2 linked regions of the Homo sapiens genome follow. The protein of the gene in region 1 interacts with the protein of each later gene in a pairwise test. Each region holds a gene or a part of one and is shown on either strand. Other genes may lie near its edges.

Region 1 (11,638 bases):
CCCAAAAAAGTTCTGTGAGGTTTCAAAATGTCTTAAATGGCACCCCCAATTTCTGAAAAACAAGATTATTTTATTATTTATTTTATTTTATTTTATTTTGAGATGGGTTCTCACTCTGTTGCCCAGGCTGGAGTGTAGTGAGGAGTGTGATCATGGATCACTGCAGCCTCCACCTCCTGTGCTCAAGTAATCCTCCCACCTCAGCCTCCCGAGCAGCTGAGACCAAATAAGTGCAGGCCACCAAGCCATGCCCCACTAATTTTCAAATTTTTTTGAAAAGACCAGGTCTCGATATGTTGCCAGGGCTGGTCTTGAACACCTGGGCTCAAGTGATCCTTCTGTCTTGGCCTCCCAAAGGGCCGGGATTTCAGACATGAACCACTATGCCTGTCCTGAAAAATGAGATTTTAAATTGAATATCATCCAACAAACAAGGTTATTCATTGCAGCATTATAACACAAAGGATTATAAAGCAAAGCATTGGAAGGAGCCTAAAAGTCTTCCAACAGGGAAAAGGTGAAATAAATTAGGGTATTTCCATATAATAGAATAAGTTCTGTGTAGCTTTCAAAAGAAAAGAAAAAGAAGACGGAAAAGAAAAAAGAAAAAGAGGAAAACTCTGAGCACCGATATGGAATAATGCCATTTGCATAAAAAGTGGGTAGGGGAAGGCTATGGACTTGCATTTATTTATTTATAGATAAAATATCTCTGGAAGGATTTACAAGAAACTTATAATACTGGTTATCAGTGGGCGACCCCCCAGAAACATCCACATTCGAATCCCCGGAAACTGTGAATATGTTGTAGAAGGGACTTTGCAGATGTGATTAAATGCATAATTTTGGCATGGGGAGATTGTCTTGGATTATACAGGTGGTCCCAATGTAATCACAAAGGTCCCATAAAAGGGAGCAGGAGGATCAAAGTCAGAGGTAAGAGATGTGACAACAGAAGCAAGAAGCTGGTTTTGGGGGTTTTGTTTGTTTGTTTGTTGTGTTTTTTTTTTTTTTTTTTGAGACAGGATCTCATTCTGTCACCCAGGCTGGAGTGCAGTGGCATGATCTCAACTCACTGCAGCCTCCACTTCCCCAGGCTCACGCGATCCTCCCACCTCAGCCTCCCAGGTAGCTGGGACTACAGGCATGCACCACCATGCCTGGCTAATTTTTGTCTATTCTTTGTAGAGACACAGTCTCAGTTTGTTGCCCAGGCTGGTCTCCAACTCCTGGGCTAAAGAGATCCTCCTGCCTCAGCTTCCCAAAGTGCTGGGATTACAGGCATGAGCCACTGCACCCAGACAAAGCTGCTGGTTTTAAAGATGGCAGGAGGGGTCATAAGCCAAGGCAGGCAGGCAGCCTCTAGAAGCTGGAAAAGCAAAAGAAACAGATTCTCCCCTGGAGCCTCCGGAAGGAGACAACCTTGCTCACACGATGATTTTAACATCTGCCCTCCAGAATCATTAAGAAAGCAAATTTGTTGTTTTAAGATTGGCCAGCCAAGGCTGCTGTGGAATTTAGATCCGTGTGTCCAGGAAACCCAGGAAAACAACTGGACCTACTTTTGCTCCGTAGGGTGCAGGAGGATGGATTTTTGTGTTGGATTTGTGGTCCCATGGGCCTGGGCTCGCCTCCCAGCTCTGTACACTAGCAATTCTGACACTGGCCAAGTCACTTGACCTGCCTGTGCCCCACTTCCCTCCTCTGAATGGCAGGGCAGTAACACCACCCGACAGTGTTCTGGAGAGGACTGGAAGCAATGCTGTGTGCTGAGTCCCTGGCTGGCAGCATTCTGGAGAGGACTGGGTGGAATGCCATGTGCTGAGCCCCTGGCTGGCAGCGTTCTGAGAGGACGGGGTGCGATGCCATGTGCTGAGCCTCTGGCCCATGTCGGCCTTGACAGTGCAGCTCTTTGCATGGAACAAATCAATCCCTCTGCTGAGTCAGAACTTACTCTCTGTTCCTGGTTGTGCCCAGAGACCGGGGACTTTCCCTCTTCTTCCTACCTGGAAGTCAAAGCAGAGCTGAGCCCTGCGGACCAGAATGTGGGCAGCCTCATTCTGGACTCAGCATCACCAGAGGACACCAAGGCCTGGCCCCAGGAGTAGGGAGCTCAGCCTGGCTGGCCGAGACTGCCTGCCAGCTGGAGCCAGTACGTGGCCCTTAGCCAAAGTGCCCTGTTGCCTCAGAGGCTCCACGGTCCTGCTGGCCACCTTTCATGACACTTTGATTTTAGCCTTCTGACCTCCAACACTGTAAGCACAAATGTGTTGTTTTAAGTTGGCCAGCTAAGGCTGCTGTGGCATTTGGATCCATGTGTGTCCATGAGGGCTCTGGGGGTGACCGGGAACATTTATCCTCACAGCAACCCCGGCCACTTTTACAGATGAGGAAACTGAGGCACAGAAAAGTTCAGTCACTTGCCCAAAGCTACACAGCTGGTCGGCAACAGAGCTGGGATTTGAACCCCAGCACCCACGCTTCTAACCACCACACAGGCTTCCTCTCATGAGGAAGCTCGGAACGTCCTTATTCCTGGCTCTCGCAGTGCTTCCTGGGCCACACAGCAGGTGGTTCCAGCTTCCCCCCAGCCCTCCAAAGAGGCTGGGCTAGATGAGGCCAGACAAGAAGTGGGAGTGAGGTTTCCAAGCCAGGCCCTCATGGCACTCAGCCCTCCTCAGCAGGACATGAACCGCGTGACCTTCCCCCACTGTCGGCATGTGGAGAAAGCGTGACTCCGACTGCCAGATGGGTCACCGAGTGAGGCTCAAGTGTCCCAACCCAGGGGAGCCCCCGTAGGGTAGAGGGGAGCTCTGGACACCTGTGGGGGCTGCACTGATCGTCTTTCTTGTCTGAGCTCCAAGGCCCCGCTTTAACTCTCTCAAACTCTCTGATGTGCATAGGAGGATTTTCCTTCTGAATCCAAAGATTAGAAAGTAAAAACCAGTTACCAGAATAATAATATGTCAGAACCTGGAAGAAGCTCTGGGATCCCCTCTCTGACAGAAAACCAGAAATGGGGTGACATGCTCAAGGTGGCACACGCTGACCCTAAGGCTCGCCCAACACCGGCAGCCCATTCCAGCTTCCCCCACTCCCTCTATGCAGGTTCTACCTTGGGGGCTTCCATAGGGTGGCTGAGGGGTCATTGGTGACAGCCAGGAGGAAACAGGCCTCCTTTCTCCATTCTTCCTCTCTGGAGTCTAGAAAGCAGAGCTGAGCTCTGCAGACCAGAACATAGGCAGCCTCATTCTGGACTCAGTATCACCAGAGGGCACCCAAGCCCAACCCTGGCCTCTGCTGAGGTGGCCCCTGGCAGCTTCCCTGCCCTCAGCACCCTGCCTCTGCCCACCCTCCCCATTCTGCCTCCCCACTCAGGAAGGGCCCATCAGCCCACCCACTCCAGCCCCTCGGGAAGCTCTTTGCCAAGGCAGGGTGAGATCCTGTGACAGGACCCAGCCCAGGACACAGTCACCCCTGAAGGCTCCTGGGCTCCTGGGGCTGCCACTCCCATCTGGGGGCATTTGGCAACTGGCCTTTGCCTCCCTGAACCTTGGATTTTCCGTGAATGAAGGGGACTCATAAACCTCACAGAGTTTCAGCAAGGCACCTGCAGCCCTCTGACCCCACACTGCAGGGACAGTCCCTGCCTCCGTCACCTCTGAGACTGTCCGTCTACAGATGCCCTGACATGCCTATGCCTGGTTAACTCCGCCTCACCCTTCAGAGCACAGACACCTCCTCGGGAGGCCTTCCCTGCTGCACCCAGACTCCCAATAACATGAAACACTCCCAAAGCACCTACAGTGTGTCAGGCACTGTTCAAACACTCTAGATACACTACTTCCTTAATCCATATCCCAACCCTGGGAGTGGGGGGCTCAAGTATTATTCCCACTTCACAGATATGGAAACTGAGGCCCAGAGACCACCAGCCAGTAAATAGCTGGACCCAGGGAGGCCAACTCCACAGTACGCACCCTTAACTACCATGCCGGGTAGCATCCTTACTGTCCCAGAAGCATGCTTGCTTCCTCTTTACACAAACCATCCCACTCTACACCTCTTCCCCTGAGCGCACAGGACAGGACAGGACAGCTCAGCCAACACTGTCAAACCCATGACTCATGGGAGGAGCATCTCTCCAGGCATGAGTGAGCTCAGCATGGCACAGCTGTGCCAGGACGACCCCCACTGACATTTCTGCCCTGCTTGTGTTCTCTTTGGGATGCCCCCACCCCTATCTCCTGCCACCCAGGAGTTGCTTCCTCAGAGCCCCAGAACTGTGTCCCCCTGGCTGAGGCAGCCCTGTGCCCACGGCCCCGGAACTCACTGGGCTCAGATAGGGAGCCTGGCAACCGCTGAAGGCCATCTCTCCACCGCCTCTGTGGCCACCACTGCCTTTGACACCTGCCAGGCAGTCCTTTGCAGAAGGAATGACTTAACAAAGTAATAGAAACCAAAGCAACTTGGCTGTTATTCAATGGGGAGGAGCCGGCAGCAAGAGGAAGTGGGTCCAGAGAGAGAAAGGTAGGGTGTTGGGTGAACTGGGGTGACACTCATAGAGGGAAGTAGGCACTCCCAGCCCCAGTGACCTTTCCCTCCTCCCTCTCCTGTGCTCAACCCAAGCCTGAAGCATATTTGGTTCATAGAGGTCTACAATGCTTGACCACACTGACATGACAGTGAGTTGCCAGATGACACTGCCCAGAAGTATGTGGCTGTGTGTCCTAAGCATGCTTGGCCACTGGTTCCAGAAAATAATGGGGCTGGGTATTGCCTGTGCACAGGGTGCTTGTGGGGAAGGGTGGCTTCAACTCATTTTACATATAGAGAAGCTGAGGCTCAGAGTCTGAGGGACATGCCCCAGGTCACACAGCTAATTCGTGGCAGCCTGAGCTATATGAAGATTCTCAGAATCTTCAAGAAGTATTTCTCCTCTTTAAATTTCTATTCTTCATGTTAAAACATAATTATGTAGAAGGGAATATTTTGCATGAAAAACACTATAATGAAGATTTTTATTCTAGAGTATGGGGTGCCCAGGAGCTTCTGATCCTCCCCCTCAGTGAATCTCTCTTTCTTCTCTTCTCCATCCTTATTTTGTGAGCTTTAGGATGGGGAGAGAAGTATTGGACATAATAGAACATTTCAAGTGACATGGGAGTGGGAAGGAACATATGGCATGAACTGCCTTTAATTGGCTTCAGCACCTAGTTAGGGGAAATAATTGGCTGAAACAGAGAATAACAGGATAGGCTGCAGAGGGGAGAGGGAGCCATGAAATAAACTTACCTGAAGTTGACCAGGTCCCAACGATGTGCTGGCGAGAAGGCCCAGAACTCAAGCTGGGGATGGGCGGGTAAGGACCATACAGGCTCGAGGGGATGGCAGGTGCCCCAGGGCCATACGTAAGTCTGCACCTCTCTTCCTTCCTGTGTTCTGCCTAGATGCACTAGAATTTGCAGACGAACTCCTTTGAGATGTTCCCATAGACTGAGGCCGTGTGTGTCGTCTGCACTCACCATCCCATTATGTTCTGGATCAAGTAGAATTTGACCAAGTTAAGGAGTAGACAGTACAAGGGGAGCAGAAAGGAGAGAAAAGAAGGGAAATTCTTTGCAATCCTCTCGAATACCAGGAATATTTTCATCACGTCACGTCATTTGTAGCAATCACCAATTGATTGGGATATGGAACAACTGGAACTATCATTCATAGCAGACTTGAGTGTAAAATAATCCAACTTAGAAAAATGGGCAGGGCGTGGTGGCTCATGCCTGTAATCCCAGCCCTTTGGGAGGCTGAAGTGGGAGGATCACTTGAGTCCAAGAAGTTGAGACCAGCCTGGTCAAGATAGGAAGACCCTGTCTCTACATATAATTTAAAAGGCAAATTAGCCAGGTGTGGTGGTGCACACCTGTGGTCCCAGCTATGTGGGAGGCTGAGGTGGGAGGCTCACTTGAGCCCAGGAGGCCGAGGCTGCAGTGAACCCTCATCACGCCACTGCACTCCAGCCTAGGTAACAGAGCAAGACTCTGTCTCAAAAAATAAAAAAAATAAAGAGAAAGAAAAACTGCTTGGTGAGTTGTAATATAGTCAAATATCTACTTCAAAGTTGCTGGCTTTTCTACTTCTGAAAAATTACCCAAGAGAAAGGAAAACATATTTGTCTGTTTTTAAAAGCTTTACTCGTCATAGCCCCAGGCTGGTAACAATGCAAATAGTCACCAACAGAAGAAGGGAGAAATGAATTGTGGTTTTCACACTACAGAGTGGCCCTCAGCAATAAAAAGGAGCTAGGCCACAGGAAACGTCAATGAGCCTTGCAACTGAGCGGAAGAAGCCAGATCCAAACAGACACATGCTGTGAGAATTCCATTCGAGTCAAGTTGAACAACAGGCTAGAGTGGCGTTACCCTTGGGAGTCACTGACTGGGAGGGGCACGAAGGAGTCTTCGAGAGGCTGGAAATGTTCTGGATCTGGTTCTGGGTGGTGGTCCCACAGGTGTTTACATCCATTAACAACAGGCTGAGGCTGGGTGCAGCAGCTGACACCTGTAATTCAGCACTTTGGGAGACTGAGGCAGGAGGATTGCTTGAGTCCGGGAGTTTGAGACAAGCCTGGGCAGCATAGCAAGACCTTCTGTGTACTAAAAATCAAAAAAATTAGTGAGGCATGGTGGTGCATGCCTGTAGTCCCAGCTACAGGGAGGCTGAGGCAGGAGTATTGCTTGAGCCTGGGAGGCTGAGGCCACAGTGAGCTATGATCGTGCCACTGCATTGCAGGTTGAGTGACAGAGCAAGACCCTGTCTCAAAACAAAACAAAACAAAACAAAACTCAAACAGAAAACCAGGATCTGTACATTTTATTCTACCTAGACAATATCGCCATAAAATACTGCTAAAAGAAAAAATCTCCCAGAGCCCAAGGAGACACAGGCACAGCTAAGAGTTCCAGCAGTTTAGCACCTTAGCATCACCTTGAGCCTTGGAGGTGAGTCACAGTTAAGCAGCTTCACTAGTGAGTCCAGCCCATAAAGGAGGGCCCTCTGCTCCATGCCCTGTCTGGAGGGGCCCCAGTAAGGTCATACCCAAAGGCTGACATGTTTTTAGACTAATCAACACAGTAGGGAGGCACTTCGAGGCACAGTGCCAGGCCACTGAGAGTTCTGACTTCGGCACCCTTCAGTCACCACAATCCATTCCCAGTGGTTAGCTCTGGTCTTCAGGAGACTAGAAGCAGCCCTCGGGAATGTTCGTGCTCAGAGCTCTAGTGTTCAAAGTCACAGACCCTTCTCAGAGGCTCTCTCTTCTCTGCCCTATAGACTGAGGGAGTCTGCCACCTCACACTCATTAGGATGCCTATGATTAAAAAAAAAATCCAGAAAATAACAACTGTTGGCCAGAATGTGAGTAAACTGGAACCCTGTGAAAACAGCGTGGCTGTTCCTCAAAAACCTCATCATAGAATTACTATATGATCCAGCAATTCCACTTCTGGGTATATCCCCCAAATAACCAAAAGCAGGAACTCAAAGAGACATGTGAACACCCACGTTTGTAGCAGCATCATTCACAAAAGCCAAGAGGTGAAAGCAACACGTGTCCATCAACGGATGAGTGGTCAGCAAAATGTGGGCCAGACATACAATTCAGCCCTAAAAAGGAAGGAAATTCTGGCATATGCCACAACATGGATGGTCCTTGAGAACATTAAGTGAAATAAAACAGCCATAAAAGAACAAGCACTGTAGGCCGGGTGCGGTGGCTCACACCTGTAATCCCAGCACTTTGGGAGGCCAAGGTGGGAAAATCACCTGAGGTCAGGAGTTCAAGACCAGCCTGGCCAACATGGTGAAATCCCGTCTCTATTAAAATTACAAAAAGTAGCCAGGCGCGGTGATGAGTGCCTGTAGTCCCAGCTACTCGGGAGGCTGAAGCAGGAGAATCGCTTGAACCTGGGAGGCAGAGGTTGCAGTGAGCTGAGGTCACACCACTGCACTCCAGCCTGGGCAACAAAATGAGACTCTGTCTCAAAAAAAAAAAAAAAAGAAAAAGAAAAAGCACTGTATGATTTTACTTGTCTGAGATACCTAGAGTGGCCAGAATCAACAAAAGAAAGTAGAATGGTGGTTAGGGGCTGGTAGGAGGGGGAATGAAGACTTATAATTTAATAGGCATAGAGTTCTGGTTTTACAAGATGAAAAGAGTTTTGCGGATGGATGGTAGTGATAATTGTATAACAGCATGAATGTTCTTAATACCACAGGTCTACCACTTAATATTGGCTCTTGGCTAAGATCTTAGCTGAGGCCATTGACTGGAACACCTGCAAGTGGCTTTTCCACATGGCTTGGGCTTCCCCACAATATGGTGGCTGGAGTCCACGGGTGAGCATTCCCAGCGAGAGCCAGGTGGAACTTACATCCCTTTTATAACCTAGCCTCAGAAGCCATCCAGTGCCATTTCCACCACATTCTATTTGTTGAGGCAATCACATGAGCACCACCCAGGCTCAAGGGGAGGGGAAAGTGACCTCACCTCTAGACAGGAGGCAGCAAGAGGTTGAAAGAGCACCTGGGACCAGGAATATTTGGAAAATTCAATGCCTGCCGCAGACAATAAGTAAGTGCTGGACTCCTCTGGGCACTGGGGTACAGAGAGAATTGGACATAGTCCCAGCCTTAAGCATCTCATATTCCAAAGGGTAAGATGGATATACAGCTGGGCTACATGGCTTCAAGGAGGAAGTGCACACAGATTTTTTTTTTTTTTTTTTGAGACAGAGTCTGTCTCTGTCGCCCAGGCTGGAGTGCAATGGCGCCATCTCAGCTCACTGCAAGATCCCCCTCCAGGGTTCAAGGATTCTCCTGCCTCAGCCTCCTGAGTAGCTGGGATTACAGGCACCCACCACCACACCCGGCTACTTTTTTGTATTTTTAGTACAGACAAGCTTTCACCATATTGGCCAGGTTGATCTCGAACTTCTGACCTCAGGTGATCCACCCACCTCGGCCTCCCAAAATGCTGGGATTACAGGTGTGAGCCACCGTGCCCGGCCAAGATTTTTTGTTAAAGTTAATATAGTTGGTTATGTGCTGGACATCATTCTAGGTGTCTTACAATTAACTTTATGTCAGTTTTATGAAGCAGGCACAAATAATAATCCCCATTCTACCTGGAAAGAAACAAAAGCACGGAGAGGTGAAGCAACTTGCCCACAGTCACACAGCGGCAAAGTGCCAGAGTGGGGACTCAGCCCGGGCAGTCCCGCAATGGAGTCTGTGCTGCTCACCACGGCACCACCCCACCTCTCTTCTCAGATGCCCCCTCATGGGATGGACCTACTTTCACGGACCTCAACGTCTTTGCAGGGAACATGGGCCTGAGTGACTGCACTCTGTCCCTAGGGAGTGAGGAGGGTTCTGCCAAGTGGTTTCATTTTGATCACTGTTTTCTGTGCCTGGGGGGTGGGAAGCCCAGAATGGCACAGCTCAGCTCCTAGTCCTATCAACTCACTCTCATCCAGGGCTGATTCCAGAGGGGTGGCAGGGAATGAGGGGTGGGGGTTGCTCTGCTGAACAGGAAGGAACACTGAGTCCATTCTCTTTTGTATCTGGGGATCCCCAGAGAAGAATGCAACATGGTATGAAAGAGTGGAACGCCAGCTTCTAGGGGAGCCCCAGTGTCCAACAAGGGCACACACTTTGGGAGTCAGCCAGGCCTGGCCCCAATTCCAAGCTCCTTCACTTCCAGGCGGGATGATGCTGTGCAGGCTACTTCACTGCAGTAACCCCCAGTTTTCCCTTCTGTACATGGGGGTGATATTTTCTCACATGACTTCCCTGATGTGAAATGAGAGAACACATGTAAAGCACCTAGCATGATCCTGCCACGTAGTAGGCAGTCAGTGACCATCTCTCCCTTTGGCCAGGCTTCCTGGCATGTGCCGGACCTAGACCCTGTCCCCCAAGGAATCTGACCAACACACTGCAGTGTGGGCTTTCACCTCCCTTGTTTCTACACACTCTACCACCAGTGATGTCACCTAAGATTATTTTATTATTTTGGCAGCCATATCCCTCAGTGGTTCTCATCAACTAAAATCCTACAGTTCTTTCCACAGGTAGCAGCTGCTTCTCAGTGTCCTCCCAGCGGCCATCATAAATGACCTGGCTGCAGTGATAGTTGTGCTGTTACAGAAATATGGAAAATCCCAGGCCACTTCCTGCACACCTCAGGACCTGTTTCCTTCCACACTAAAGGCTTGCTCAATACCCCAACGAAGGAGAGATGGGTAAGATTCAGAACCCAGGCCTCCCGCACCCTCCCTCTGATGAGCCCTATTCCTGAGGCATATTGTCCAGCCATTTGCTCAAGGGAGAAAGACAGTAGATGCTCAGTTCCTACTTGGTGATGAGAAGGTGACTGAGAAGGGTGTGTCTACTTCTTCAGTGCGGCTCTGCCTCCCAGCCTAGAAACTGACTGAAATAACAACCAACAATTTTAAAGGTGGGATGTGGGCGGGAAGTGGAAATCTACATTCACACTGGAAACTAGAGTGTTGTCACGGGCCGTCCACATGCTGCGAGCATTGAACGTGATGCGTTGCCAGAGCTCACGTGGGCTGGAAAGAAGGCATCACCGGGTCACTGCAATCAATGCACAACTTCCCTTCTGGGAATGGACTTAGTGATCCTGGAAGGGAGGTGCAGATCCTGGCTGGATGAGGGCAGCCATCAGGCTTTGAACATTCACTTTATGTGCTAAGTGCTTCACACACTTCATTGATTTGGTCATCACCACAAGCCTGCCAAGTAGCAAGATCCCACTTCCCTTATCAACAAGGAGACGGAGGTTCCAGGAGGTGCAGGAACCCGTAGCGGGGCTGAGGGCTGACTTGGTGTCCCCCATGGACTCAGGGGACTGGGGAAAGGGGAGTTAGTGTTTAATGGGAGTTTCATTTGGAGATGAAAAGGTTCTGGAGATGGATGGTGGTGATGGTTGCATAACAGCGTGAATGTACTTAATGCTAGTAATTTGTGCATTTCCAAATGGTTTAAATGATAACTTTTATATTCTGTACACTTTACCACATAAAAAAGGTGGGGGGAGGAAGGGAATCACTGCTAGGTTGCTGTGGTAACTCTGCAAGTGTATATAAAGGTATCAGGAAGAAAAAGCTAAAATACTCACTTACAGTCTCCCATTGTTTTGCTCCAGAATCCACACACCTGCTCTGTCTCTGCAATGTACATAATTAAAAGAATGCAGGTGCTCGGCCTGATTGAATTGAGCCTGCTTCCCCCTCAACTGCTATTATATTCCAGATGGGATAATGTGGTCAACCCAAAGTTCTGAGTCTGAAGCCTGCCCTTTTTGTGTTAAAAGTGAGATCAGACCCAGGCGTGGTGGTGTGCACTTGTAGTCCCAGCTGCTTGGGAGGCTGGGGCAGGAGGATCGCTTGAGCTTAGGAGTTCCACACAGTAGCATGCTATGATTATGTCTGTGAATAGCCACTGCAGTCCAGTCTGGGTGACAGAAACAGACCCGCATCTCTTAAAAAAAAAAAATGTGGCCAGACATGGTGGTTCACACCTGTAATCCCAGCACTTTGGGAGGCTGAGGAGGGTG
Region 2 (11,959 bases), on another chromosome or scaffold:
CAATTCTCCTGCCTCAGCCTCCTGAGTAGCTGGGACTACAGACATAAGCCACCATGCCTGGCTAATTTTCATATTTTTAGTAGAGATGGGGTTTCACCATGTTGACCAGGCTGGGTCAGGTCAAACTCCTGACCTCAGGTGACCCGCCCGCCTCAGCCTCCCAAAGTGCTGGGATTACAGGCATGAGCCACCGCGCCCCGCCTGACATTTTAAATTTTCAAGCAGTTACTCTCCAGCAGGAAAAACAATACAGAAGTACAGAAGGGAAGCAGAAACACTCCTCTCTTCCTTCTCCCACCCTAAGCCCCAGGGCACTCTCTTGCCGCAGGCTTCATATCAATACAGCACTAAAATCGTCATTTGTGTATTGCCTGTGATAACAATTACACTTGAATCCCAAATTGAAATTATTAACAATTAAAAGGTGAGGTAGAATCAAAGAAAAAAAATCCATAGAATGAAAAACTTAGAATGAACTTGTTGTGGATTAAATCATGTTCCCCAAAAGATATGCTGAAGACGTAACTCCGGTACCTGTGAACTTAACCTTATTCAGAAAGTGGGTCTATGCAGATGTGATGAAGTAAAGATGAGGTCAGGTTAGAGGAGGGCAGGCCCTAATCTAATGACTGGTCTCCTTATAAGAAGAGAGGAATTTGGCCACAGAAACTTACATGGAGGGGAGAGATTGGAGTCATGCGGCCAAGGGTCAAGAAATGCCAGCAGCCATCAGACACTAAGAAGAGGGAAGGAAGGATCCTCCCCCAGAGCCTCCGGAGGGACAGTGTTTCTGCTGTCGCCTTGCTTTTTGAACTCTGGCCTGCAGAATTATGAGAACAAGTTTCTATTGTTTTGAGACCAGGACATTAATGCAGAAATTTGATTCTCCACAGCTGAGGAAAGGGAAGATGAGGGAGGTTACACACTTGCTCCTGGTCACAGGTGTGACACTACAGTGCTCAGGACCTGTAATCACATCAGGATGCTTCCTGTCAAACCACATCATCTCCAGAAGCATGAAGATGGTTCTTCTTAAAAAGTTACTGTAACTAAAACACTGCACCTAAGGAGGAACGGCAGTGACGTGCAAAGACTGAGCTGGGCTGACCCAGATTGACAGCTCCACCCTGCTTTGCCTTCACTAGTGTGGCCCTGGACAAACTACTCTGCCTCTCCAAGCCTCGGTTACCCTGTCTGAAAATTAAGTCACATTGTTGTGCACATTTTCCAGGACGTTGCAAGGATACAATGAGGTGAGCCACGCACAGGGCTTCACGTGCCCTTTGAGTGTCCAACACTCCATCAGCAAGAAATCAAGGTCAGCTCTTGATCTTATAAACTATTTCTCAGACTCCTGTCCCTCCTTGTTGTTTCAAGCTGATTTCTTGGCTCACCTTTCCCAGTCCTCTGTAATACAGTCTTTGATGAATTCTTTCTCTAAAGCCCAGAAGCTGCCACTTCTCACTCGAAGGAGCTGGTGGCAAACTGGCTTTGACTTTCTTGTTCTTTCAACCTCAGTAATTGTTTTTTCTCATTGTCTTTAATAGTTTACCATTTCAAGTGGCTCCATCAGATTTCTTCTTGCTGGGATTGCCTTCTTGTTTTCAGCCTCACCTACAGTCAGCTTCATTTGGGGAGCCTGGATGGCTTCTTCTGAAGAACACAAACTCTTATTGCATATGCTGGATCCATATTTTCAATACAAGTCTTCCAAATAATTGTGTACTAAGAGGCTGATAATCAAGTGAATGCACCATGATTAAAATAGGATTCGCCAAAATAATTAGGTGGCCCTTTACATTCAAGTGTTCAGGTATGAGAATAGTTTTGCTGTCTGCTTTACCTATGTTAGTGGAGATGACAGAAAATCTTTCAGAAAAAGAATCCCAAAGGCTTTTTTTGAAGCTACTACAAGGTATATGGCTGCACACCTTCTCCTGTCTTCAGCTGGAGTTATTGTGTTAACATGAAAGTCTCTTTTTTCATAATAGAAATTGCTGTAATTATAATTACTTTAGAAGAGTGTTATTATTAATAAGACCAAATTGCACGGTTCAAGCAGGTGCTGGTTGAAAGAACTGTTCAAAAGTTCTACAGTTCGAAAGAACCCACATAATGGGATCAGCCGCAAACCTGGCAGTCATCTCCATGCCAACGTGGCCCTGCCTGCCAGCACACACGCCTTGCAGCTCTCAGGCGGGCTTCCGGGCACATGCCTGTGACTCCTCACAGAGTCACTGGGCTTTAAACAATGGACCTCTAGTTCCTGATTAAAGCCTTCGGGGAACAAGCACACTTCCAACAGTTGACTTTCCCATAAAAGAAGGGGAGCTGGAGGGCTCTGGTTCCTGTTGAACCTCTCCTCTCAAGGCCTCTCCCGTGCACACCTGGATCCAGCCCTTCATTCTGTTGCTCATTCAGCAGTGCTGAAGGAAAGAGGAGATGGGGGAACAGCACGGAGTTCCGGAGGGTCCAGTTGCAGTCATACAATAAGTCCCTAACACCTTGGGGTGTACGTTCAGGGTTCTCTGGCTAGAAAGGGTAGTTTGAGGCCAAAACCAAAGAGATCAGGAGGCATGAAGGGAAGGAAGTCGTTATCTGTCTGGTGGTTCAGAACTTGGCTTCTGAAGTTCAGCTCCCTGGCTTCCATTTTTGGCCCTCCCTCTTTCTTGCCCTGTTGCCCTGGAAAGTCATTCAGTCTCTCCGAGCTTCAGTTTTCCCACCCCCAAATGCGTATAAGACCCCCGAGGGGTGGTGGGTGGTGGGTGGGGATTCCTGGGAAAGCACACCTAAAGCACAGAGCGCAGTGCTTGTCACGTACTGAGCTTTCAGACATTGTCTATGACTATTACTTAATTCTTGAAAAATTCTTGGTTATTTATTGCTTGAATTTACAATTCCATTTTTCTCTCCACCTAAGCAATTTTTATTTTAGGCTTCAGAGAATCAGCAGAGAATAAATGCATGACTCCTGGCCATTAATAGAGCAGGAAAGCTCACTCCAGGTTCAGAAGTCACCTCACTGCTGCCCCCTCTAGCCGGCTGCTGACACCCTGCTGGTGGTCAGAGACATTTCAGGGCAACACAGGCAGGTAGTGAATCCTAATGCAGTAGTCAGGAAAGCCTGACTTTACAGTAGGCATTTGGAAAGATTTGGTTATAAAGCAGCTTATCGCTAAATCAAGCCAGGAGGGAGGTACAGGATATTTCATTCCCCATCACATGTAAAAATTAAATCTGTCTCTGTAGAAGCAGCGCTCCCTGGAAACATGCTAATGGTTGAGAAGTAATCTTGAACCAACTACTGCCTTGGCTACGGTAAAGACAGGAGCCTAGGTACTCAATACATTTCTGTTAATTAAATTAATTAAACCTCATCATTTTAAAATAAAGGTCATTGAATTAATTAACAGGCAAGTTATTATTTATAAAAGCTTTTTTTTTTTGATTGCCAAAGTTAAGTATTTTTTAGTCCTTCTTCAGGCTTCTCCCTTTCCCCTTTGCTCTGGAGGGAGGGTTTCAGGGCTTCTTTTATCATAGCCCTCAGACCACCCACATTTACTTTTAGTAGAGAGAATTCCCTCGCATCAAAGCACACATGTCCAATGGGGATTCATTCAAGGCCTGTTCCAAAAGATTCTCTGCAGGTCACAGAAGAGGTTCTTCCTCAATATCTTGTCATATTTCCAAGGTTCTCAGCACCAGGCACATGTTCCCACGTGTTGGCTGCACCAAGACCACATCTTACAGCCAAGTTAAGCTCCCTCAGCTGATGGGGATTCCTATTCCCTCCCTCTAACCATCCACTCCTGGAGATGGCAAAGATCACTCACGTGGCTTCCCATGACTTAGACGAAAGGCAACTAGAATCAAAGTTTGAATATACGCTTTTGAAGGTTTTTTTTTCCCCCTAAACTAATTAAACAACTACAGAAGTTATTCGGCAGTTTCCTTTTTTAAAAGAATTAGCATGGCATGTCTTTCCTCTTAAAGTCTTGAATAATTTAATGAGAATTATACAAAAGTCATGAGTATGTTCTATTTATGGGGGAATCATAGCTGAATCAAAACCCAAATGACAATGTTAAAAATAAAAATAAACTATCTTCAAATAGTGCATTCAATTGAGCAAAGGACTTCAAATCCCACTTGGATTAGACAGTTTGAAAGTAGGAGGGGGCAGATCAATTGGGATTTTTTTTTTTTTTTTTTCAGATCACTGTGCTTGGGAACATTTGTTTCTTGCTACAAAAAGTGTTAGTAAATGAACATCAGAGTAAGAGAAAAGGAAAGCTGTTTGATTTTATTTTTGTGTTGTAATCGGGATACCACTTGGTCCCCGGACACCTCACTCAGCCCCTGTTTTTTTCCCGGTAGCTGGAATGCTTTTCACACTCTGCACACCCGCGTGTAGATGCATCGCTCCGTGCAGAGGGGCAGGGCCGCCGGATGAGCGAGGACACAGCTGACAAACCAACTCCGAGAAAGGAAAGCGGGCGCAGGGGAGACGCTGCTCCTTCCTCAGAGCAGCAAGCGAGCCACTTCTTAACCGGGTTGCTTTTAGCTGAGCTCATGCATAAATCCTTTTTAAAGGGTACTGCGCCTTTGGAAGCCGGCCACGAGCCTCTTTAGCAATGAGACAGCATGGTGGTGGGGTGGGGGGGGGGCGGGGGGGAGGGAGGGTATGAACACGAGGTGATTTTCCCCATAATAGCCCGTCGCCCAAGGCCCACCGCTCCGTCTCCCGCTGGAAGTAGGTGTCGCCCGCAAGAAGGAAATCACGTTATTGGAGGCGGCAAGTTCCAGGTCTCCTCTCCCGCCCAGCCCCGCGGAGGGGGAGCTCACAAGTTCTGAAACACTCGCGCACACCCCTCAGTGCGCCCCGGGCGGGGGCTGCCGTCCTCCGCGACTCAAGAGCGAGCGCCCCCGCTCCCCGGCCCACCCGAGCCCCTCTGCGTTCCCCGCTCTTCTGTGCGGGGACAGCTGCTGCTTTGGGGGCGACGCTAAGCCGCGTGGAGGCGTCTCTGGACAGCCCCCTCCCTCCAACGAGCCCGAAAAGCCCGCGGCAGCAGCCGGGGGTCCCTACCTTCTGCGGGGGGGTCCCGATCAGCATCTCCAGGTAGTAGCCGCGGCCAGAGTCCCCCTGCAGGTTGTCTACCATGGCCAAGAAGTTGGCGGCGCCCGCGGGGGACGCCAGGGCAGGCTCCAGGGCGAGCGCCAAGCCGTCGGCGTGGCGCTCGGCAGGGGTCCCGGGTCCCGGGGTGGGCGCAACTACGCGGTTCGTGGCCGCGGCCACCCGGAGGGGCAGCGTGAAGGGCGCGGGGGCCAGCTCCGGGGCGGCGCGCAGGAGCCACTGGGCCAGCAGAGGCAGCAGCAGCGCCCGGGCCAGTGCGCCCATGCCCACGGCGGGGCCCGGGGGGCGCGCCCAGCCTAGCCGGTCCCGTCCCGTCCGGCAGCCGCGGCTCAGCGACTCGGCCGGCGCGCGGGGCTGCGGGCAGGGATGGGCGCGCACCGGGACCGGCGGCGGCGGGGAGGACGGGAGGAGGGCCCAGGGGAGGAGGCTCGCGGGAGGGGAGGAGGCTCGCGGGAGGGGAGAAGGCGGAGGCCGGGGAGGCGGGCGCGGAGGCGCAGAGCCGCCCCAGCCCGCGCCGCCAAGTTGGGCAAGTTCTTCTCCGCTGCCCCCTCTGGCGGCCGCGACTGCCCCGCAGCGGCCCAGCCCCTCCCCCGCGGCCAAGGTCACAGCGGGGCTCGGGGGGCGCCGGGGTCCACCTGCGCCTGCCCTCCCCACCCTCGCCGGGCTCAGGCCGCGCCTCTTCCCCGGGAAACTCGAGTCCCGAATTTCCTCGGAAAGCGCCCCAGCGGCCACGGCCAACGGATGTGACGAGGCTCATCTGATACCGGGGGGAAAGTTTCGAGAACCCTTAAAGGGGCAGCGAGGGCCTGAACTAGGGCCCCGGCCCCGCGCGCTTGGGGGTCCGCGGGGGTCTATTCGCCCGGCAGTGGCGGGAGCTTCCGGGGGTGACTCGGAGGTCAGCGAGGAGAGCGGTGGATCGGGAAGGAGCCTGGAGCCTCGCGCGCCTTTCCGAGCCTGCGCCTCCCCTCGCCAAGCTCCTCCGCCTCATTTCAGTCGCCGGGTCTGGCTGCTTTCGAGGCGTTTCCCGTCCGCTGCCCCCGAGCCCCCGCCCTCAGTCCAGCCCGTTCCCCGGCCTCATCCCCCGGCGGCCCCTGGGTGGTTTTAAAGAGGTCTCAGTGGAGGCTGGGAGGGTGGAGGGTGGAAGGAGGCAGAGGAGGATGCGAGAGCTTTGGAGAATTTTCCCTAAAAATCGGGGGAGGTGGGGGGCGTGGCTGCTGCTGGCGCCTGGCCCCAGCCTCATTGCCCCCCCTTACTCCCTCTGTTGCCCACAGCTAGCTGCGAAGCTGGGCTTCACCCCAGCCACCTTCCCCCCACCCCCGCCCCCTTCGCCCCCTCCGCCGCGCCCCTGTCCCTAATGCAGGTCAGATGCTACTGGAACCCGCTGCCTCCCCTGGCACCCAGCCCTCAGGCCACCTAGTAAGTTGCTGTCAGGATCCCAAATCAGGGCCACGAGTCCACCCTGCTGTGATCCCTGCCCTTCTCCCCCACCTCCCCTTCTATCCCCAGCCAGCTCTCTGCGGACTGTCTAATTAATACTCGTTTAGCCATAGACGCCAAGACGCAGAAATGCGTTGAGTAATGCAAGCAACGAGGGTTATTTTATTTTAGATACTAAAGGCAGGGGGGACAATTAGACAAGCTAAAGTCCATCGATTTCTACAGAAACAAGGAATAGAAAATTCTTTGTACCTCCTCCAGCTGAATTATGTTGGCTGTTTTAAAAAACAAACAAGCCCATCTTCAAACAGTGGGGAGTTAGAAGCCAAGCTTCCCCGAATCACTGCAATTTTCAGCTACTTCTACTCAAGATTTGATTTTTATTCCTGTGTTCCCAATTTTAGAATCACGTCTAGCTCTGCAAGGGACCTTTATGTCAGAGATCTTCAAATGTATTGATTTTCAGATGACTTTAACCATAAATCACACTTCCCCCAAACTATATCTCAACTTTAACAAATCCCCAACTCCATGAAGAAAGGCATAGCTGGATCCCGTGATATAACTTAAGTTGATATTCTCCATAAATCTGCATAGTTATTCCAGAGCCCTTCTATTCATATATTCACGTTTCAGATTCAAGGTTGTGGAGGGAATGTGATTTTTTTTAAAATGATTATTTATACTCCTTGGTGTCCAGTCTTGAGGGGTTCAAAAAGACATTCAGACAGCTCTGGGAAGAATATAATCTTTCTGAAAAGCACATGAAATGTATTAGGGCCATTGATAAAGAGGCTATGTGACATATAAGTTTAATACTAGAGACATTTGCTCTGTCTAATAATTAAAAGCCACAAGGGAAATTTTTAAAAAATCAAGTCTAATTAAAGTTTGTACAAGAAACGCGTGACTCAGTCTAGGGTGAGTATTCCTAAGCTTTTCATTTTAAGAGGGATGGTTTGGGTTTGTGGGGAAAAGGATGCATAAAGATCCAGGGATGGAGGAGCACACAGGCTTCCATGGATGGCAGAGCTGTCTTGTCAGAAAATAATGCAAGCTGAAGGGACAGCATTGGGTGACTGTCTCCTTGGTTGTCTCTGTTTTCATGAATGGTCTTAGAGCATATGATCCCTATTCAAGCCTATGGTGCTGGGTGGATTTGGGAGACAATAATTTTACTTTCCAGGTGTTGGAACTGAAATGATAAGTGGCAGCCCTCTCATGGAATAGCATTGATTTTTAAACCATGGTGACCGATGCAGGGCAGAGAAAGGAGAAGGTGAGACCCACCCTCCTGACCTCACCCCTAACATCAGAGGACATGGGATACTGCCCTGCTCTTCCTCACTCCACCAGAGCCTCCAACTCCTTCCCTTCTCCTTACAGCCTCTCAGCACCCTCGTTTTCAGCCATGGCCTTCCTGAGTCCATTCAGGAAAACAAAAGCCCTGCAATTAGATGGGCCTTCTCTCCTTGGAAAGAACAAACATCACCATTAAACATGACCCTGGACGGTGGAGAGCGAGGAAGGATCTCACTCTCCAGCCCAAATGACTAATAGAAGATTCCTGGTAGGAACGTGTGGCGCTCAGCCAGAAAGAGTCACCATCCCATGTTCCACTGATGTTTGTTGTCTCTCACTGCCAGCTCCCAGTTCCTTTTACACCTGCGATTGTAACCGGGCCTATGTTAGATGAATCATAAGGTGTTTGTTTTCCTTTATCGTGGTCCTTGGCTTCCTCCAGGCATGCCTGTTTGCACATAGTCCTTTTAATAGAAGGGAGTCCCTTGTCATTAACTTTATATCCTGGCCCCAAGCCTCCTCACATGATTAATGAACTTGTTTTTCTTTTAAAGAACAATGATCTTTAGGTTAGGCAGATCTCTTTGATGGCATCCAGAAGTTTGATCGGGCTGGGCCGAGGGACGCAAACAGCTTTGATCATGGGGGATCTTACCTCCCACATACTTACCTTACCCATAGAGGCGCCAGCTGTGGTCCTGAACTGATTCAGAAATTTCAGTATTCTGAATTCTGTATTTCTGAGGCCTTTAAAAAAATGATCCTTTGATATATCTACTGAAAAGTTCTGGAAACAATAAGTATCCTTAGTATCATATTAGGGTTACTAAATATCACTTCCCTCCAGAGAGAACCAGGGCTTTTTGGAGAAGGCTGATTTTATAAACTGAATAAGATAACCCTAGAATATCTCATCACACCAGAAAGCAAGGATGTTATCAAAGACTTCTGAGGTCTTGTCATAAGCTGGGGCAAAACGGAGACAATTTAAACATCATTAAAGGCAGTAACTGCAATGCCTCAAAACACTTCAATTATGTTGAAATCTATTTGCTCATAATGTTCTTTTTAAAAGTACATTGATTATCTTTGAAGAATGCTAAGAAGCCCAACTCATTATTTTTAAAAGCTGGTAAAGAAAGGAAAGGGATCAAGCATGTATTATCTTAACTTTCCTGTACAAACTATACGTCAGTATAAGCAAATAGTAGATAAAGGCGAGTTTCTCTTTGTAAAAGTATTGCAGCTAATAAATGAAGGGACGATAGAATTAGAATGTTGCCATTTTACTTCCCTTAATGAGTTAATGAATCTGGACACCGAATGTACATGGCTGATAATATTAGAGGGAGAGGGAAAGAGAAACACCCTGACATTCTAAGCCTTCGGATGGAAATCCGCAATGCTACCCATCTATGACATGTTATCGCCAAACAAAACAAAACAAAAAAACCCTGAATCTGAACAAGCCTGTACATCACAGGTTAGCAATCTGCCTTCTTGGGACCAAATCTGGCCAACTGCCTGTTTTTATAAATAAAGTTTTATTGAAACACAGCCATAGCCATTCGTTTAAGTCATAGCAACAAAGACAGAAGGGCCCACAAAGACCAAAATACTTGCTGTCTAACCCTTTTCAGTGAAAGTCTGCCAACCCCTGCTATAGATCAAAAGAATCCCAGTACCCCTATCAGTCTCTTGCAATAGATGGACCTTATTCAGTCCTGATTTGAACAAAATGACAAAATTGTTTATGAGACAATTAGAGAAATTTGAACACTGGTTGGATGATATTATGGAATTATTGTTAATACTTTAGGTGTGATAGTGGTATTGTGTGTGTGAGAGCTCTTATCTAGTGGAGACACATGCTGCCATATTTATGGATGAAATGAGACTTGTTTCAAAATAATGTGGGTTGGCAAGGATTTCAGGCAATATTCTCAGTTATTTAATACAAAAATGACCCTATTAGCAGGCATTATTATCATTCTCATTTTACAGACGAGAAACTGAGGCACAGAATTGATAGTTGATTGGTGAGAGGTGGGAATGGTATTCAGAACCCTGGGTCTGATTTCAGAGCCTGTACTCTTCCTCATGGAGCCAGGGCCACCCCTTTGATGTGAACTTTCTGGAGCTCATGGACTGCCCCAGCTGGAGAGGCCTCCAGAATGCCACCCGCATCCTGGCAGGACACAGAAAGTGCAATAGGCCAGTGGAACCCTACAGGCTGCATCCATAACCGGGCACTTAACAGACATATGCTGAACCCTCCCTGTGCCAAGCTCCACGCTAGAGGCGGGCTCACATGGGCGAATAACACCCAGAAAGCCCCTTCCATCAGAAATTACAATTTGGCAGGAGACAGACTGACTGTAAATATGTTTCCTTTTTGGGAACACCACTCTAGCTTCTAGGTGGAGGAGAGTTGGGGGTGGTGAGGCTGGAGACAGGGAGACCGATTGGGAAGCTGCTGCGAGGATCCGTGAGGACAGTGGCGATGGGCGTGGGAGGGGGAATTTAGCATTTAGTGCTTAGGAGATGAAGCCCTCGCAGCACAGGGAAGAAGCATCATAGGACTCTCATGTGATGGGAGCACTCAACACACAGCCATCTGCATCATAATCTCTCCTGTTTGCCTGGTGCTGGTGCTGTTCAATTTTCAGAGCAATATCACAAATCCTGCCTCATTTTGCTCCTCAAGCAGTGGGAGGCAGGGATGGTAGGGATGATAATTTTCCTTATAAAAAGAAATTGAGGGACAGGAACGCTGAGCTCCCACCATGTCCTGGGACTCTTATCCTCCAACACTCCCAGGTAGGCACATGCACCTGCATCACAGAGGACGACGCGGAGGGAGAGAGTTGATGACTCGTCTGACATCACAGTGAGGAAATGACGATCCCGGATTTGAACCCAGTCAGCTTCAGAAGCCTAAATATTCTTTTACCTAACCCATGTCGCCTTCTTCAAATGACTAATTAGGTACCTTTGGGACCAGAGGGAAGTAGGGATTCACCTCGGACTTCCTTTAAAGAACAATTTTTCCTCATGTATTTAAAATGGATTCCCATTTACAGAAAGCCGTGCATGCTTTCAGGAGCATATCAGTTGGATAAATAAGGCCCATTACTATGATATTACATCAGCAAGGTCCCAGCTAGGCGAGGTTCTACCTAGAGAGGTGGGTGGCTAAAATGATAGAGGTTTCCAAATGTCTGTTTACCATCAGCCCTCCTGTATTAATGAGCGTGGAGATACTCCATGGAAGGCTCAGAGGCTCTGAGCCTCAAGACCTGGGATCAACTTCTGATTCTGCTTAGACCGTTGGCATGTTCCAGGCAATTTTCTGCCCCCTGAGCTCTGGTTTCCTTATTTCCATGTCTACCGGCCACCTCCGAGGGCATATTCTCATAGACTCAACATGAATGGCCCCTCCTGAAGTTGTGTGTCAGTAAGTCTCAGTTGACTCACTGTAGTGGGCTTCCTGAGGATGAAATCATATTCTACAGTCTCTCAGTTCTGTTTGTTCCTAGTTTAACCACTCCAAAGCCAGGATGCAGACGCCACTGTAGCGTCTTATGTTCTCCATGCCACAGCCATGGCATGGTGAGGGTAGGCATATTGTTGTAATTCCTGGTGTCATGATGGGAAACCACTCTCCTGACATTTTAGTTACCAAATGACTAAGGATCATTGGAGAAGGTGTCTAACACCTTCCTGTTGACAGCTTCTGACAGTGTCAAGAGAGCCCCAGCATAAACATTTTCAGGAAGGTGTCAGGGGCTGGGGGTGTTCTGGAGACCATAGGAAACTGCTTGTAGTGAGGAGGACAGTGTCCCCCAAGGATGTCTTTGCCCTAATCCCCAGAACCAAGAAATCAGTTGCCTTACATGGCAAAAAGAACTGTGAAGATGTGATTCAAGGAAGATCTTTGAGATGGGGAGGTTATTTTGGTTAATCCAGATGCTAGCCCAAGCTAATCAAGTGCATCCTTAAAATCAGAGAACCTTTCCAGCTGTGCTCAGAGGGTGCCATGACTGTGGAAGAATGGTGGGTCAGAGAGATGCAACGTTGCTGGCT

Evidence for each region.
Region 2: the proteins of LGALS9C (region 1) and BACE2 interact in binary tests that used the Homo sapiens proteins (3 or more experiments, as listed by UniProt).

Annotation. Positions count from the first base shown.
Region 1 is NC_000017.11:18,469,589-18,481,226, reverse strand, and holds the start of LGALS9C (galectin-9C), read right to left. Parts: upstream 4,439-11,638; 5' UTR 4,373-4,438; coding exon 4,334-4,372; intron 1-4,333. UniProt on the Homo sapiens protein: Binds galactosides.
Region 2 is NC_000021.9:41,161,703-41,173,661, reverse strand, and holds the start of BACE2 (beta-secretase 2 isoform A preproprotein), read right to left. Parts: upstream 5,503-11,959; 5' UTR 5,399-5,502; coding exon 5,087-5,398; intron 1-5,086. UniProt on the Homo sapiens protein: Responsible for the proteolytic processing of the amyloid precursor protein (APP).